2 separate regions of the Homo sapiens genome follow, and region 2 is linked to region 1. A link means that fine-mapping ties the variant in region 1 to the expression of a gene that starts in the linked region. Tissue or cell type: tibial nerve. Region 1 holds a variant in brackets; the other region holds the start of a gene. All regions are shown on one strand. Distances are from middle to middle.

Region 1 (8,103 bases):
CATTTTCACAAGAGCATGTCAGTTCTTCCCTTATCACTTGTCTGGAGAGCCTTATGGGTTAGTATTTAACAGACAACATTGTCACACACATCATCTCAAGCTCACTGTCACCTCCTATATATATAAAAAACAGCAAGAAGCTACCACTGGTTGCCTCTGAGAAGGTAACTGAGTAGTTGGGAGGCTGGGTGGAAAGGAAACTTCTTTTTCTCTGAATATTCTTCTTCCTTTTTTTTTTTTTTTTTTTTTTTGAGATAGAGTCTCACTCTGTCCGCCAGGCTGGAGTGCAGTGGTGAGATCTCGGCTCACTGCAACCTCCGTCTCCTGGGCTCAAGCAATTCTCCTGCCTCAGCCTTTCAGTAGCTTGGATTACAGGCATGTGTCACCATGCCCAGCTAATTTTTGTATTTTTAGTAGAGACGGGGTTTCACTATGTTGGCCAGGCTGGTCTTGAACTCCTGACCTCAGGTAATCCACCTGCCTCGGCCTCCCAAAGTGCTGGGATTACAGGCGTGAGCCACTGCGCCTGGCCATATATATATGCGGCCACACACATATATATATGGAAAAACAAATTTTCACTTGATTGTATTATATTGGGTTCTGAGCATTTGTAAGTCTAAATCTAAATCAATGGTTGGATCTCAGCTGGAGGGGAGGGGAGTGGGGAAGGGTTTTGTCTCTCAGGAGGCATTTGACAATGTCGGGAGACATTTTTGGTTATCATGACTGGGCTGGTAGTGTTGATTTTGGCATCTAGAGGAGAGGGACACTGTTCAACATCCTACAATGCACAGGACAGCCCCCAGACAAAGAATTATCTGCAATGTCAATAGTGCCAACGTTGAGAAATCCTGGTCTAAGTGTATTTCATGTGATCTTCTGTAAAGCCTTAGTGTATTAACATGTTCTAAATTAATAAGGTGATTTTCAGCCTGGGAAGAGCACTGTATAACTAAATGCACTTAAGATGCCTCTAGTTTTTATTTTTTATTTTATTTTGTTTTTTGGTTTTGAGACACAGTCCCGCTCTGTTGCCCAGGCTGGAGGGCAGCAGCACAATCTCAGCTCACCGCAACCTCTGCCTCCTGGGTTCAAGCGATTCTCCTACCTCAGCCTCCCAAATAGCTGGGACTATACAGGAGTGCGCCACCATGCCCAGCAAATTTTTGTATTTTTTGGTAGAGACAGGGTTTCACCATGTTGGCCAGGTTGGTGAACACCTGACCTCAAGTGATCTGCCCACCTTGGCCTCCAAAAGTGGTGGGATTACAGGTGTGAGCCACCGTGCCCAGTCTGCCTCCAGTTTTTCTATTTTCTCTTCCTCCTTTACCCCATGCCCCTTCCTCAGAAGCTTGCCTCCTCCTACTCCGTGGCCTCCATGACTTTGGAGAATTTTTGTCCATGGCTTGAGCACCGGTAAGACTTTGCGCTTGGGTGAGGCTCTTTTTGGTCTGAGCCCCTCAGGGATTGGGTTGCCTCCAGCTTGGGCCCATTGTCTCCCTCTGCTGTTGGGGGAACAGGGTGGGAGGGCACTGTCTGGGAAGGCGTGAGGACAGTATTAGGAGGGGCCAAAGATGTGGCCACCTAGCCTTGTACACTGGATGTAAAAGGGCCCGGGGTGTCTTGCACCCTCGCCATTTAGCCTCCCATCAGAAATGTTTGCAGAGGTGGGCACCTCAGCAGAGCCCAGCGGACAGTGGAGGCTGGCTTGTTCCACGCAGGCCAGGCTCACACACAGTCCATGTGCCCTGCTCAGGGATAGGCACCTTAAGGTGACCTCTGGCCCTGGTCCTGAAGTCCTGCCCAGGGCAACGGATGAGCAGCTCTGCTCATCTGTACAAGGCTAGGTGGCCACATCTTTGGCCCCTCCTAATACTGTCCTCACACCTTCCCAGACAGTGCCCTCCCACCCTGTTCCCCCCATGACTCAGGCAATCTGACTGGACCCTTAGCTGGCTCTCCCCAGTAACCTCCACCAGGACTCCCACCTGCGGCCGAGTGTTTGTGTGGGATGTGCATGTGTGCGCATGCACATGAGAGTGGCGGTCTTTCGGAAATAATTAAGTCAGCTGGGCACAGTGGCTCATGCCTGTAATCCCAGCACTTCGGGAGGCCGAGGTGGTCAGATCACCTGAGGTCAGGAGTTTGAGAACAGCCTGGCCAAAATGGTGAAACCCTGTCTCTACTAAAAATGCAAAAATTAGCTGGGCATGGTGGCACAGACCTGTAATCCCAGCTACATGGGAGACTGAGGCAAGAGAATCACTTGAACCCAGGAGATGGAGGTTGCAGTGACCTGAGATTGGCTCAGATCCTACTGAGGAGATGCTGGAGACAGGAGAGAACTATTTTGTTTTGCTTCAGGTTTCATTGATTTTTCTCCATTCTTTATTCATTTTTAATTTCAATGTTTTCTGCTCTGCTTTTTAGTATCTGCCCCTATTTATTTTAGATTTGATTCACCCTTTCAGCTTCTCAAGGTGAAAGTTTAAATTTTAAACATTTATTGTCTAGTATAAATACTTAAAGCTATAAATTTTTCTCTAAGTACTGCTTTAGCTGACTCCTTCAATTTCTAATACTTTTTTGTTGTTATTCAGCTGAAATTCTTTCAGTTTTTCCTTATGATTTCTCTTTTGACTCACAGGATATTTAGATGTATATTGCTTATTCATAAGTGTTTGGGGGATTTTCCAGATATCTTTTTGTTATTGATCTATCTGTAAGTTCACTGATCCTTTCTTCTGCTGTCCAATCTGCTGTTCAGCCATCTAGTAAATTCTTCATTTGACATGTTGTAGTTTTCAGTTCTGGAATTTCCATTTGGCTATTTTATTTTTCCCATTCTTCTGCTGAGATCCATTAACTCACGATGATCATTTTTTTCCTTCCAGTTCTTGAATATATTTATATCGCTGTTTGAAGTTTTTCCTGCTGGTGCCAACTTCTTGGGTCATCTCAGGTTCTGTTTCTATTGCTTGCTTTTTCTTTTGGCTATGACTCATATTTTCCTGTGGGTTTTTTTTTTCTTTCACACGCCTTTTAATTTTTCATTGTATATTAGACATTGTAGATAGTGAACTTTAGAAACTGGGTTATCTTCCATTGAGGGGTGTTGATTTTTGTTCTAATAAGCAATTAACTTACTAGTTGATCACCTTGAACCCGCTGAGGCTTGGTTTTATCTTTTGCTAGTATGAGTCAGCTTTGGCTTTGACCTTACTCTCAGAACAAATATTTAGTCCTGGGATATAGATTTTAGCTCTATGGTGTGGCCTTTTGGGAGTTTCAAGTAGAAAGCCCTAAGTGTTTACCCAGACCCTCTGACTTGGGATTCAAATTCAAACTCTTTCTCTGCTACAGTGGGTAACAGTCAAAATCTGCTTAGCTCTTTCAGACCTCCAGTGGTTGTCTTTTACTGGGCTCTTGGAAATTCCTCCATCCACAGTTCAGCAGTCAGCCTATGATTTGAGGGGAGTTTATATGCAGATTTAAAGACTTTGCCTTCTGTGGCTTCTTTCATTCCAGGAAATCCACCTTCAGCTGTTCTGGAGTCCCAAACTGTCCTCTGTCTCCTGTCCTCTGTCCTCTGACTCTTCAAGCCAAAAAAGGCTGGGGCTTTCTGCTCAAGTTCTAGCTATCCTGTGCCATTTATACTCGGGAGTACACTCAGGGAAAAAAAAAAACAACAATGTAGATGGTTCTTTTCATTGAAGAGTTGAGTTCCTTTCAGTTTCTGCCTGCTTTGGATACTTTAGGTGTTTTCAAAAAGTTGTTTTTCATATTGTGTCCAGTTTACAATTTTTTTGCCTAAGGGGGCATTCATCTAATAAACTATTCTGCCATTACTGGACCATCCTTTCACTTTTAAACTTACTTATACCTAAAGTGTGTCACTTTTAACTC[A/C]TCTATATATATAGTCTCGCTCTGTCCCACAGGCTGGAGTGCAGTGGCGTGATCTCGGCTCACTGCAGGCTCCGCCTCCCGGGTTCACGCCATTCTCCTGCCTCAGCCTCCCAAGTAGCTGGGACTACAGGCGCCCACCACCACACCCAGCTAATTTTTTGTATTTTTAGTAGAGACGGGGTTTCACCGTTAGCCAGGATGGTCTCGATCTCCTGACCTTGTGATCCACCCATCTCAGCCTCCCAAAGTGCTGGGATTACAGGCTTGAGCCACCACGCCCGGCCAACTCATCTATATATTTATGATCTGCTGAGGTGGAAAAGATTCATTCATAAAGCCTAAAGTGTAGTACTGAGTACAAGTGCAGGTGGAACTTAAAGCAGAGTTGGTGTCACTGGGGTGGGCTGCACAGAAGAGGTGTTTGTGAGGTAGGCTGTGAGGGCTAGATAAGACTTCAATGAACAGACAGGAGGAAGACTGTGGCGACTTGTTGAGCTAAGGGTAGGGGTAGGCATGAACATGGCGTAAGGACAGTGAACAGACCCACCTCCCTGGCTGGAGGTCTGAGTAGGAAAGGCACACTCTTTGAGTAGATTCAACACAAAGAAATGGAGGCAGCCTGGCTCAGGGATGCCCTAGACCTCTAGGCATTGTCAAGTTGCCTAAGTCCTGTTCCATCAAGGCTGTTTACTGATGTGCTTCCAGGGCACTCCCCACTCCCAGCCCTTTCCTGCAGCCCAGGGCTGGTTCCTAGCCTCTCAGCAGACTTAAGATGGGCACCTTCCACAAAGGGGCAGATGAGTTGAGGAAAACTTAACTGATACAGTTGTGCCAGAAGCCAAAATAAGAGGCGTGCCCTTTCTATAGCCCCATTAAAAGAACAAAAAAGTGGAAGCATCTTCAGTGAATATGGGTCAGCACCTCCCAGACCTCAGGGAGTCCACTTCTGTTCATCCCAGCACCCAGCATTGCATATCCAGATTATTTGAGCCCAATCTCTTATCCTCTGAAGAACACAATCGGCTTTGGGGCCACAAAAGGTTTAGGTAGTGGTTTAGGGATTTCTAATCCCAAACTTTGTCCTTGGGAGGTTTAGGATTAGTATTGATCATTCACAGAGCCCAAGTGTTTTTAGAGGAGGGGTTTTGTGGGGTGGGAGGATCACCTATAAGAGGACTCAGAGGGGGGTGTGGGGCATCCATGAGAAAAATGTCGGAGGAAGAGTTTTATCTGTTCAAAAATATCTCTTCAGTGGGGCCGTGGGATGGGCCTCAGTACCACATTGCCCCTGTCTGGGCCTTCTACCTCCAGGCAGCTTTCATGGGCACTGTCTTCCTTATAGGGTTCCCACTCAATGCCATGGTGCTGGTGGCCACACTGCGCTACAAAAAGTTGCGGCAGCCCCTCAACTACATTCTGGTCAACGTGTCCTTCGGAGGCTTCCTCCTCTGCATCTTCTCTGTCTTCCCTGTCTTCGTCGCCAGCTGTAACGGATACTTCGTCTTCGGTCGCCATGTTTGTGCTTTGGAGGGCTTCCTGGGCACTGTAGCAGGTACTGCAGGGGAAAAAGGGGTTAGGGGAAGGCAAAGGTTGCTACTCCACTGGAGGGGGTTCCTAAAGAGGAGTCTGGGGGAAATGAGTCTGGTGCTTTTTAAAATACTGGGGTACAAAGCAACCCAGACTAGAAGTTTGGCTAAAATAGGATGTTTGAGTCTTCACTCCAAATGTCAGTCCAGCCCTGTCTCTCTGTGCTTGCTCCACCCGATCTGTTTGCCACTCTGCCAGCCAGGCTGGGTGGGGCTCTGTCTAGCCCATTATCCTCACATTTCACCACAGGTCTGGTTACAGGATGGTCACTGGCCTTCCTGGCCTTTGAGCGCTACATTGTCATCTGTAAGCCCTTCGGCAACTTCCGCTTCAGCTCCAAGCATGCACTGACGGTGGTCCTGGCTACCTGGACCATTGGTATTGGCGTCTCCATCCCACCCTTCTTTGGCTGGAGCCGGTGAGAGTGCAGGGCAGTGGTGCTGAGTTAACTAGGAGCTCAGGTTGATGTGGGTGGAAAGAGAGCTTGGGTATAACTATTTAGTCTTTGACCTCTACTTTTAAAGAGTTGCAATATGAGGCGAAAGGGCAGTGGGAGACAAGTGCTAACGTTTACTCTGCAGTTGGAATTGCTGTAGCTTCTCCCAGTCAGGACAGAAAACCCCCCTGCTTGAAGCCTTAGGGCATTCCGTGGGTTCTAAGTGGAGAACACAATCCAGGCATCTCAGCTCCCACTGCACTCTTGTGGAGAGTCCAGTGAGCAAGTGTTTGGTCCTTTGCAGGTTCATCCCTGAGGGCCTGCAGTGTTCCTGTGGCCCTGACTGGTACACCGTGGGCACCAAATACCGCAGCGAGTCCTATACGTGGTTCCTCTTCATCTTCTGCTTCATTGTGCCTCTCTCCCTCATCTGCTTCTCCTACACTCAGCTGCTGAGGGCCCTGAAAGCTGTGAGTGGCATTTGATAGTCAGGGAAGAAGGGGTTCGGGGCTCCACATGAGAAGGAAGAGTGCTCTGAAACATAAGATGCCTGGAAATGTCCATAGCCAGAGAGGGTATCTAAAAGCAGCAAAGGAAGTAGGAGGAGGGAGAATGATGGAGATCCAAAGGAACTAGGCCAGGAGATGGGACAGAAAAGAGGCAATCAGAGTGGATGCCCCCTCCCCCATCCCACAGAAAAGCATCCAGAGACCGGGCGCAGTGGCTCACGCCTATAATCCCAGCACTTTGGGAGGCCGAAGCAGACGGATCACCTGAGGTCAATAGTTCCAGACCAGCCTGGCCTACATGGCAAAATGCTAAAATGCGAAAATTAGCTGGGCATGGTGGTGTGTGCTTGTAACCCCAGCTACTCAGGAGGCTGAGACAAAAGAATCACTTGAACCCGGGAGGTGGAGGTTCAGTGAGCCGAGACTGCACCACTGCAACTCCAGCCTGGGCAACAGAGCGAGACTCGGTCTCAAAAAGAAAATTAAAAATTAAAAATTAAAAAAAAAAAAAAAAAGCATCCAGAGGGCCAGGAAAAAGAGAGATGTGATGCTTTCCGTGCTCCACCCCAGGTTGCAGCTCAGCAGCAGGAGTCAGCTACGACCCAGAAGGCTGAACGGGAGGTGAGCCGCATGGTGGTTGTGATGGTAGGATCCTTCTGTGTCTGCTACGTGCCCTACGCGGCCTTCGCCATGTACATGGTCAACAACCGTAACCATGGGCTGGACTTACGGCTTGTCACCATTCCTTCATTCTTCTCCAAGAGTGCTTGCATCTACAATCCCATCATCTACTGCTTCATGAATAAGCAGGTAAAGCTCTTTATTCACATTCCTATGGTCCAGAAGACCCTGGTTCTTTTCTCACCATTGACTTTTAACTCAGAGCACCCTGGACTCTACCCAGGTTTCTAGTAGACGAGGGAAGCCACAAAACCCCCGAGTAGGTTGGGAAGCCTTTGGTAAGCACAGGGAGGAAGGCACGGTTATCAAGACGAGAAAATAGAACCCCGGAGGAAAGAACTTGAGTCAGGAAAATGAAGTTGCTCCAAAGAACAGGATGAATGAAAGCATTTTATTGAAAAACTCGTGCAGCAAACCACCATGGCACACGTTTACCTATGTAACAAACCTGCACATCCTGCACATGTATCCTGGAACTTAAATAAAATTAAAAAAATAAAAATAAAAACTCAGATTCCTCTCAATTTTCAGTCCTTGCATTTAATAATTTCTTAATCATTTCCCTTCCAACTTTTAGCCTGCACGAGCATGTGTGAAGCACAGAAATCATACCACATGCAAAAATCTCTAAAATATCTTATCATCTGAAGGTACTGGGGGATTTCCTATCCCATCTGAAATCCGAGCTAATAAACACCAAACCCTAAGTGGCAAAAACCCTACTTTCAGATGGTATTGTTTCCTCAATCCCAGAGGTAGACTCAAAACTAATTTGAAACCTCCCTGGATAGAAGAGAATTGGCAGTCCTTTCCAGCTGGGAGCACCTGCTAGTAATGGAGGGGCCTCTGCTGACAGTGCTTTTATGAAGCAGGATGGTTTGTGAATTTACCAACAGTGAGGTCTCAGACTTGACCAGTTTAGGATTACCGTAGACCCAGGAGTAGTTCTAGACTGGAATCTAGATAGTTTTCAGGATGGGG
Region 2 (8,103 bases), 53 kb before region 1:
CTTACTTGTAAAGGGCAATGAAGTTCTGAAATCTATCAGCTTCCCAAAGCACTGCTTTCAGGAGGCTGGAAGGGGGTGGAAGACAGTCTTGTTTACTGATGTTGCCCGAGAGATGGGAGAGGGTGGAGTGGAGCCTTCCCCTTACACATCTTCTCCCCTCCACCCTTCCCCAGGTCTTGGGGAAAGTGTTAGGAGACCGAGAGCCTGGGAAATCCAGGGCATCCCCTGCCCCACTCCCACCTGCCCCGGGAGGGGTGCCTCAGTCTCCCTGTCCCTCTGGCTGGGGCTCTGGCCGCCTGGGCTCCCCCACCCTGTCACTGATTCATCCTTCCTTCCCCAGCAGCTCCCCAGCCCACCCCCTTCCCCTGGCTCCACTGCAGCACAATGGTTTGGCAGCTTTCAGATTCCATGACACACTCACTCCCTGCCTCCCGGTGCTTTCTCTCAAACACACAGGCTCCAACACTTTCACACAGTCTGGATGCCCCAGTGCCCCCAGCCTCTCACAACCCCGACAGCCTCCAAAGCTCACACGCCCAGAAGTACTTCTTGCAAACTGGAGCCAGACCCCTGGGCAGGAAGCCTTGAGGCTGCAGGGGTTGGGGGGGGCGGTGTGTATATGGGGAGGGTGGTCATTCATATTTGCTGGAGAGGGAAGTTTCTCCCCAGCAACTGGCCCTGGGCCAGACAGCAAGTGGTCCAGGCTTGGGGCAGGAGAAGGGCAGTGGGGCCCCAAGTCCCACTCTGGAAGCAATGACCTCCCTCTCCCTCCTCCCTCTCGGAGGCCAGGCAGAGGAGAGGAGCTCAGCGCCACCAGGGCTCACCAAGCCACTTCTCCATCTGCCTAGGGATACCCCCAAAGGAGTGGGAGGAGCCAGACAGCTAGTTCCCGAGGCCACCCCAGGCCTCAAATGGAGGGGGAGGAGAGGGCTGGGCCTAGGGAGGTGCTGGGACAGCTGCTGCCCCCTCCCGCCCCTCCCTTGGTTGTTGGCTCCAGGAGAAGGAATAGCAACTGGGGAACAGCTGCGAGACAGAGCTGCCTCATAGGCCTCTTTGTTCGGAGGGAACGAGGGGCAACGGGGGGCCAGGACAAGGTGGTGAGGATATGAAGGGCACAGCTCCTTTAACCTGGGCTCAGTGCCCCTTCTTCAGGTGGGCTTGGATCCCAGCTGCTACTCCAGACCCTGACTTCCCTCCTGGAAAGAGAAGTGGGGAGTCTTTCTGACACCCCCTGAGGTGCCCAGATGCTCGATTTCGGTGCTGAGACAATACTCAGAAGGTGGCCCCATGGATAGCCCCTTTCCACCACTAAATGGAGTAGGGGAGCTAGCAGAAGCAGGATGCCCCTGCCTCGTGGGCAGCCCCTTTGAACCTCCTCATGGTGGGGCGCCCCAGCTGGTCGCTGCCGGTGTCCCCTCCCCTCCAGCCTCAGCCTGGGGCCGGCAGCTGAATTGCTGACAGCTTATCTCATCAGCGCCAGTGAGCCACTTGGCCCAAATGGGGACTGCCTCCCCTTCCTCCCAGCGGGAACCAGGGAGCTTCCCTCCCACCCTCAAACCAGCTTTTGCTTCTTCCCCTCTGCTCTGAGCCAGCCCCTCCTCTGCTGAGCCAAGGGGGCTGGAGCCAGGCACCGCCACGGGGGAGGGGAGAGGTGTGCTCAGGAAGGACGAGGCCTGGAGAGGGGCCGAGAGCCCCCGCAGACTGGAGGGGAGGGGAAGGCTGAGCGGTTTCCTATATGTCTTGCCGAAGCCTCCGGCTCTTCCCCCAGACCCCACCTGGTACAGTCAGTCCTGCCTTTCAAAACCCAGCCTGCTGAGGATGCCGGCCCAGGACTGACTCCTCTCTGACCCCTCAGCCTCCATCACGTAGCCCTCAGTCTCACTACACACTCCAGGCTCCCTCCCCCACCCCCTGCCCTCAGCCTTGTCCTTCTGGAAAGCTCAGAGACATCTGCTGTGTCACGGAGGCAGGGCTATTTCCAGGACAGGGCAGGCGGGTGGGGTGGGGGGGCAGTATTGGGGCAGGAGGGGGTAAGGGCTAGGGAGGGGACTGGACGGGGCAAAGGGCCCTGGGCTGACCTCAGCTGCTATATCAGGAGGCCTAGAGATGGCCCCAAGGGAGAGTGGGGCTGACAGACATCAAGTCATCTGGAGAAATCTCAGGGAACATCCTGTGTGGGGCCCACCTGGCCCCACATGAAACTCCCCTCCTGGGGCCGTGGGGTGCACCGTCCAAGGACCTCGTCCTGCAAATCCCAGCAGGGTTCTTAAGAGCTCTCCACAGGGGTGGGCGGGGGGATCTTCCCCAGGCCCCCAGCCTCAGGGATGACTGCAGGACTCTGAGGGCAGGACAGCCTCCTGCCACTCCAAGCCCACCCTTGGCGTCTCTGCTCCCAAGACTAGAGTGCCTCCCCGCCCCCACCCTGCACTACACACCTTCCAAATCTGGTTACACTCAAAGACTTCCTCCCTTCCACAGGCCTTTCCCTCCCTCCCCGCAGCCCAGACCGTTAGCTGCAGCCAATCCCGCGGTAGGGGGTGGGCTGGGGCAGGGCCTGGACTTGCGGAAGCCCCCTCCACCGCAGGCTGAAGCAGGAGGAGGACAGACAGGGGTTAAGTCTCCCCGCGCTCGCTCAGTGCCTTTTTAGGTTTCTGAGGCTGGGCCCTGCCTGTCCTGGCCCCCGGGCCTGAACCCAGCTGCTGAGCACATGCACGAAGAGGGCCTCCCGCGCCAGCTCCCCTCGGCCCCAGAGCCCGCAGACGCGGGCAGTGGTTGGGGACCTGTCTTCAGCCCTCTCCCAGCCCGCGGAGGGGCTGTGAAGCTGGGAAGCCACTTGTTTTGTTGGGGGCGGGGAGATGCCCCCAGGAATCAGTGACAGGCACTGGTTCTGTCCTCCCGAGTGTGGGCTAGGGTTGCCCGATGGAAGGAAAGGGAACGGTGAGCCGAGGCGGGAGGTGGGAATGTGCATGGGGAGGCGGCAGCTGGAGGGCTCGCAAACCCTAAGGCCTGGACTCCCCGGGGCACCCAGGGAGTGCTCGCTGTCCCCAGAGGGGTGTGCAGGCAGTGCCCATGGCCCTTGTCGATGGGTGGGAGGGCCGGGGCCAGGGTCTTCTCTCTATACCGGGGGGTGCCCTCCGCCCTGTCTCTCAGCTCCCCGCGCGCCCACCCCGCACCTGTGCCCCTGCCCCATGGGACGACCCTATCCCCGCAGCGCCCGTGCCCTCGCCCCCGGCACTGACCTATGGACACGAGCTTGATGTGCTCGCGCTCGAGGAACTCGAGGGCCACGGACACGTTCTCCAGCTTCATTTGGCGGAAGTTGGGGCGCGGATGGAACTTGCGGTACATGCGCTTCTGGCTGAGCACCTCGAGCAGCGCGATGAGCCGGAGCCCGTCGCTGAGGTCGCGCTGCAGGTCGGTCAGGCGCTTGCCCACGCACTTGAGGTGCTCATTGCACCAGCGCGTGAATGTGTTCTGCTGGATCTTCTTCCACGGCGCGTCCTCCGCCAGGTCCTTCTCCGTGGACGGCATCTCGTCTGTCTCATCGCCCAGGCCGAGGCCGGCGTCTGAGTAGCCGCTGTTGTTCATCATGCTGGCGCGGGCTGGGGGTGCGGCCGGGGCTAGGGCCGCGGTTTGGGCTATCGGGGGCTGTCGGGCGCTGTTGGGGCGCGACCACGGGACTCGCTGCGCTGCGCTGCTCTCCTCTCCAACTTCTCTCGCGCCGGGGCTGGCGGGGCTCGGCGAGGCTCGGCGGGCCTCCTAGGCGCTCGGCCGCTCTCTGGCTCTCTCTCCCTCCAGGGCCGGAGCGGTGCTCGGGAAGGGCGGGCTGGGCCGGGGCGGGGGGTTTAAGAAGCCCCCGGACCGCCGCCCCCCCGCCGCGCCCGCGGCCCCCGGGTCCACGTCAGAGCGCCGGCCTCCCAGGAATGCCGCCCGGCCCGCGGGTGGGGGCCGCGCCGCACAGGACGCCCCGCCCCCGCCGCCCCTCCCCCGCGCCGCCCGGGCGGCGGGACGGGGTTGAGGGCGCCCACCCCCTGGGCCCCCGGTGCCGCCGCGCTGGAAGGTGGCGGGGAGGGCCGACAGTTCTCCATCCACACCCAACACACCAAACTGTCAGGAATGAAATATGCTCCCTCCACACCCCGCACGGGCTGAAGAGGTAAATGGGGAAACTGAGGCCAGTGATTAGGGCAAAACCCACTGATCTGGTGTTCACAGAATTTTCTAGACTAGTTGGTGGCAGGCTGTTGACAGGGCCTGCGAGGGCTGGCTCCTAGCCCAGGGCATTGTCCACCTGTGGACAGGGAAGGGAAGTGTGTGTGCTTGTGCAGAGACGGCCTGAGAGGAAGCAGGGACCTTGCCCGGGCCAATGAAGGAGAAGCCTGCGGGGGGGCGGGGGGTTGTGTGTGCCTCCCAGCCATTGCTTGACTTTACAGATAGAAAAGCCTCATGTAGGGCCCAAATCCAGAGGCCCAGGAGTAAGACCGGGGCCCCTGCCCCTGACTCAGTGTCCCTGTCACCAGCCCGTTTGGCCTCATCGCCTCGGTATGAAGCTGAGCTCAGGAAAAGGGTACCCAGTGACTCACACTGTGTATCCCCCTCCCCCAAGTCTGACTCAACTGAGATGATAAGAGGGGAAGGAGAGACTCTTCCCCCATAGTGCCAGGGAGCCCCCTGGGCAACATGCCCATTTGGGCCACAGGGCAGATCCTGCCAGGGAAAGGGTGGGTCAGCCAGGCAGAAACAGGGAGAGCCCCAGCCAGAGCAGCCAGGGGGAAATGTGACCAGGTGGGTAGGCAGGACCAGGGGCAGAGTGGTCAGGGAGAGCCTAAGGGAGCCAGCTGGGATGCCCAGGCAAAGCTGCACTCAGGGCAAGCCAAAGGCTGCAGGCCTGGGGAATAGAACAGCAGGGAAACCGAGGCACCCAAACAGACTCTGGCCTGGGGTGAGGAGAAAGAGCTAGAGAACGTATTTCTTTTTCTTTTTTCTTTTTTTTTTTTTTTTTTTTTTGAGATGGAGTTTTGCTCTTGTTACCCAGGCTGGAGTGCAATGGCATGATCTCTGCTCACCGCAACCTCTGTCTCCCAGGTTCAAGCAATTCTCCTGCCTTAGCCTCCCAAATAGCTGGGATTACAGGCATGCACCACCACGCCCAGCTAATTTTGTATTTTTAGTAGAAACGGGGTTTCTCCATGTTGGTCAGGCTGGTCTCGAACTCCCGACCTCAGGTGATCTGCACGCCTCAGCCTCCCAAAGTGCTGGGATTACAGGCGTGAGCCACCGTGCTGGGCCTAGAGAATGTATTTCTATAAGGAGAGGATCCATTCTGCAACTTTGTAACATACGTGCAGCCATATCTCCCAGTTCCCCCTTTTTCAAGCCATGTGTCTTCAGCTTTCCCATCCTTCTAGACCTAGTAAGTCTAGCTGAGCTGGCTAGGAGGCCATATCTGAGCCTGAGAAGTTTCTTTAAGCCAGGGAAGGTTCTGGGCCCTTTTAGATGAATCATTATATCTAATTCCTCTTCTACCCCTAGACCTGGTGTAAAAGAAGGGATAGTGAGCATCTTTGGGGGCTCTTTCCCCCAAGGGCCAATGAGGGCACCCCCTGTTACGGAGCTGAGGAAAAAGTGTCAGGGTTCTGTGGGGGCAATGCTTATGATGACAGGGGTCTATGAATGAAATTGCCTGGTCCTTAGGTAGGGAGGGGGAGGAGTAGAGAAGGGACCAGAAAGAGCAAAAGGACCTGCTGTGTGTGGCTGGAGGTGGGGGGAGCTGTGGGGACCCTGATAGTGACAGGCGAGGTATAAATAGCCTGGGCCCTGCGGCTCATGTTCTGTCGGCTGCCTGTGACGAGGTGCTCAGGAATTCCACTCTCCTATTGGCAACCCCTTCTCCCTATCTCTAGAACTCTCATTCTCCCCAAGCCACCTTCAACTCATGGCTAAATCCACCCATCAGGCACCCGTGCTGTCCATACACTTGAGAGGCTGAGCTCTGCTGTGGAGAGAGGCCCCGCTCCTAGGACACGCAGCTGGGCCTCACAAGGGAACTGTGTATGTACAAAGGCCGACTTCTGACAGCCAACCTGATGTGCCAAGGGCTCAGGGTTCAGCAGTGCTGCCTCTGAATCCCTGGTGAGTAAACTGAGACACAGATCTGAGAAAGGATGCATTCCTCTTTGAGCTGCTGGGGAGGAGAAAGGGTTAAGGTGAGGTAGCTCGGAGCTGACAGCCCCTTTACAGACCCTAATGGTCCACAGTCCTGTTTTGCAGGCATTATCTGAGGTCCCCCAGCCAGCTGAGCGCCTCTGTTCAGGTGGAGAGGCCGGAGGAAGCCAGGGAGGGGAGAAGGAACTCCCAGCGTAGCTTCCCTTGCTTTCCCTCTGACTCAAGAGCTCGCTCCAGGGGAGGTCAGTGTGCGGGTCCCAGGGGATCAAGTGAATGGTTGGCAGAGGAGAGGAGGGTACAGAGTGCCAAAGGATGATTCCCGTCACCCCCCGCAACCGTCCTCAGAAACCTGAGCCTGTTGCTCTCCAGGATAAATCGGGGCCTGACTCAGGCCCCAGCAGCCAGTGACACTCAGCCTGACCCAGGCGCGGGCTGGTGACTCAGCCCTCAATATAGCCCATGAGCCCAGGCCCTGGGCCTGGCCAGCCAGGCTGGAACAGACCGTGCACAATGCTGGGCCCGGCCTGCCAAGTAGGGCCCCCTCCCCGAGGAGCGCTGACATGCTCCTCCCCAAGCCAGGCAGGGGCACACAGGGGGTTACAAGGGGTTTCATCAGCTGAGTATCTGGGCAGTGCTGGCTGGGGCCACAGGCTGTTTATAGCCCCCTGACTCACCACCTGCTGACCTATCTCAGGAGACCAGGTTGCCTGGCTCTTCACCTGGTCCTGCCTCTGCCGTCAAGGGGCTCTGCTCATCAGCCACCAATACTGGCCATATTTATCTTGGGCTGAGCTGAATCCAAGTGAGCGGATACAATGAGCCATGTTTGAAAATCCTGTTTTTCTGGAACCAGGGACATTTCCACAGTCACCTGTGATGATACTGGGCTGGCCAGGTCATAACAGGCACTTTCAGTGATACTGATACTGACTGTGGCTCTGACCCAGGTTCCAGGGACAGTGTGGTAGAGTGGAATGATCCATGGGCTGAATTCCAGCCTCTCTACTTCTAGCTCTGCAACCTTGGGCAAGTAATGTAGCTCTTTTGGGCCTGTTTTCTCGTCTTTTTTTTTTTTTAATGTGTGAAAATGGAAGGAAATCACAAGAAAGATGATTAGCATGGTGCCTGGCATCTAATAGGTGATCCAAAACAATTAGTTTGCTTCCTCTGATTATCTTGGAGACTAAGGGGTTCTGGTGAGAGAGGCCTTCCCCTGCAGCTCTGTGTCCACACCTCCGTGGGGACCACTGCCTGGATCTCCAGGCTGTTCCCCTCTCCCCTTCCCTGCAACCCAACATTCCCTCTGCCACAATCAGAACCGGCAGTACCTGTCATCTTTAGAACCACCCACCCTGCCCCAAAAGCAGCTGGTCCTTGACAGGAGTGGCAGCGGGTGGCTGCTCTACCTCTTGGCCTGGGAAGGGAAACCAGACAGGGCTAGGCTGCAGGGAGCTCACAGAAAGGAGGCAGTTATGCAGAGGGCAGCAGCGGGGAGAGATGGAGGCTCCTGAAGGTGCTTTGAGTCCCTGGTTCTAGCACACCTAGGCCCAAGTGCACGCCTGCCTGTGGCTTCCAAGGCATACCCCTCCAGACTTAAGATCAATCCCTCCTGTCTTTTTTTTTTTTGGTATAAATTTAGAGGGTGCAAGTGCAGTTTTGATACATGGATATATTGCTTAGTGTGAAGTCTGGGCTTCTAGTGTAACATCACCCAAATAATGTACATTGTACCCATTAAGTAATTTCTCATCCCTCCCCTCGCCCCATGCCCCGACCGCCCCCCTACCCCTCGCCGCTCCAAAGTCTCCAATGTCCATCAGTTCACATTCTATGTCCCTGTGTGCACATTATACACATTCTTTAACTCCACATTTTTTTTTTAAAGACGGAGTCTTGCTCTGTCACCCAGGCTGGAGTGCAGTGGCACAATCTTGGCTC

Direction of the effects. Positions count from the first base shown, and alleles are read on the strand shown. Sizes are in standard deviations (SD) of each study's normalised expression.
With allele C in place of A in region 1, the expression in tibial nerve of the gene that starts at base 3,823 in region 2 is lower (moderate effect, 0.52 SD a copy in GTEx).

What was found. PIP is the estimated chance that this variant, and not a neighbour inherited with it, causes the effect.
Region 2: it holds the start of FLNC, and the variant in region 1 is fine-mapped to the expression of FLNC in tibial nerve (GTEx, PIP above 0.99). The same link has a PIP of 0.9 or more in fibroblasts, ovary, subcutaneous fat, testis, thyroid and tibial artery.

Annotation. Positions count from the first base shown.
Region 1 is chr7:128,772,797-128,780,899 of GRCh38, reverse strand. It overlaps CALU (calumenin), which reads right to left. Exons shown (of 7, transcript NM_001219.5): 7 at 7,500-8,103. OPN1SW (opsin 1, short wave sensitive) reads left to right here and starts at 5,106. Exons shown (of 5, transcript NM_001385125.1): 1 at 5,106-5,461; 2 at 5,746-5,914; 3 at 6,237-6,402; 4 at 7,012-7,251. The coding sequence starts at 5,119. RefSeq lists cis regulatory regions at 4,640-5,109, 4,010-5,109, 1,310-5,109, 1-5,109, 4,118-5,112 and 1 more. The variant A/C (reference allele first, on the strand shown) is at 3,910.
Region 2 is chr7:128,826,126-128,834,228 of GRCh38, reverse strand. FLNC (filamin C) reads right to left here and starts at 3,823. Exons shown (of 48, transcript NM_001458.5): 1 at 3,240-3,823. The coding sequence starts at 3,591. RefSeq lists an enhancer at 114-757 and a silencer at 3,606-3,767.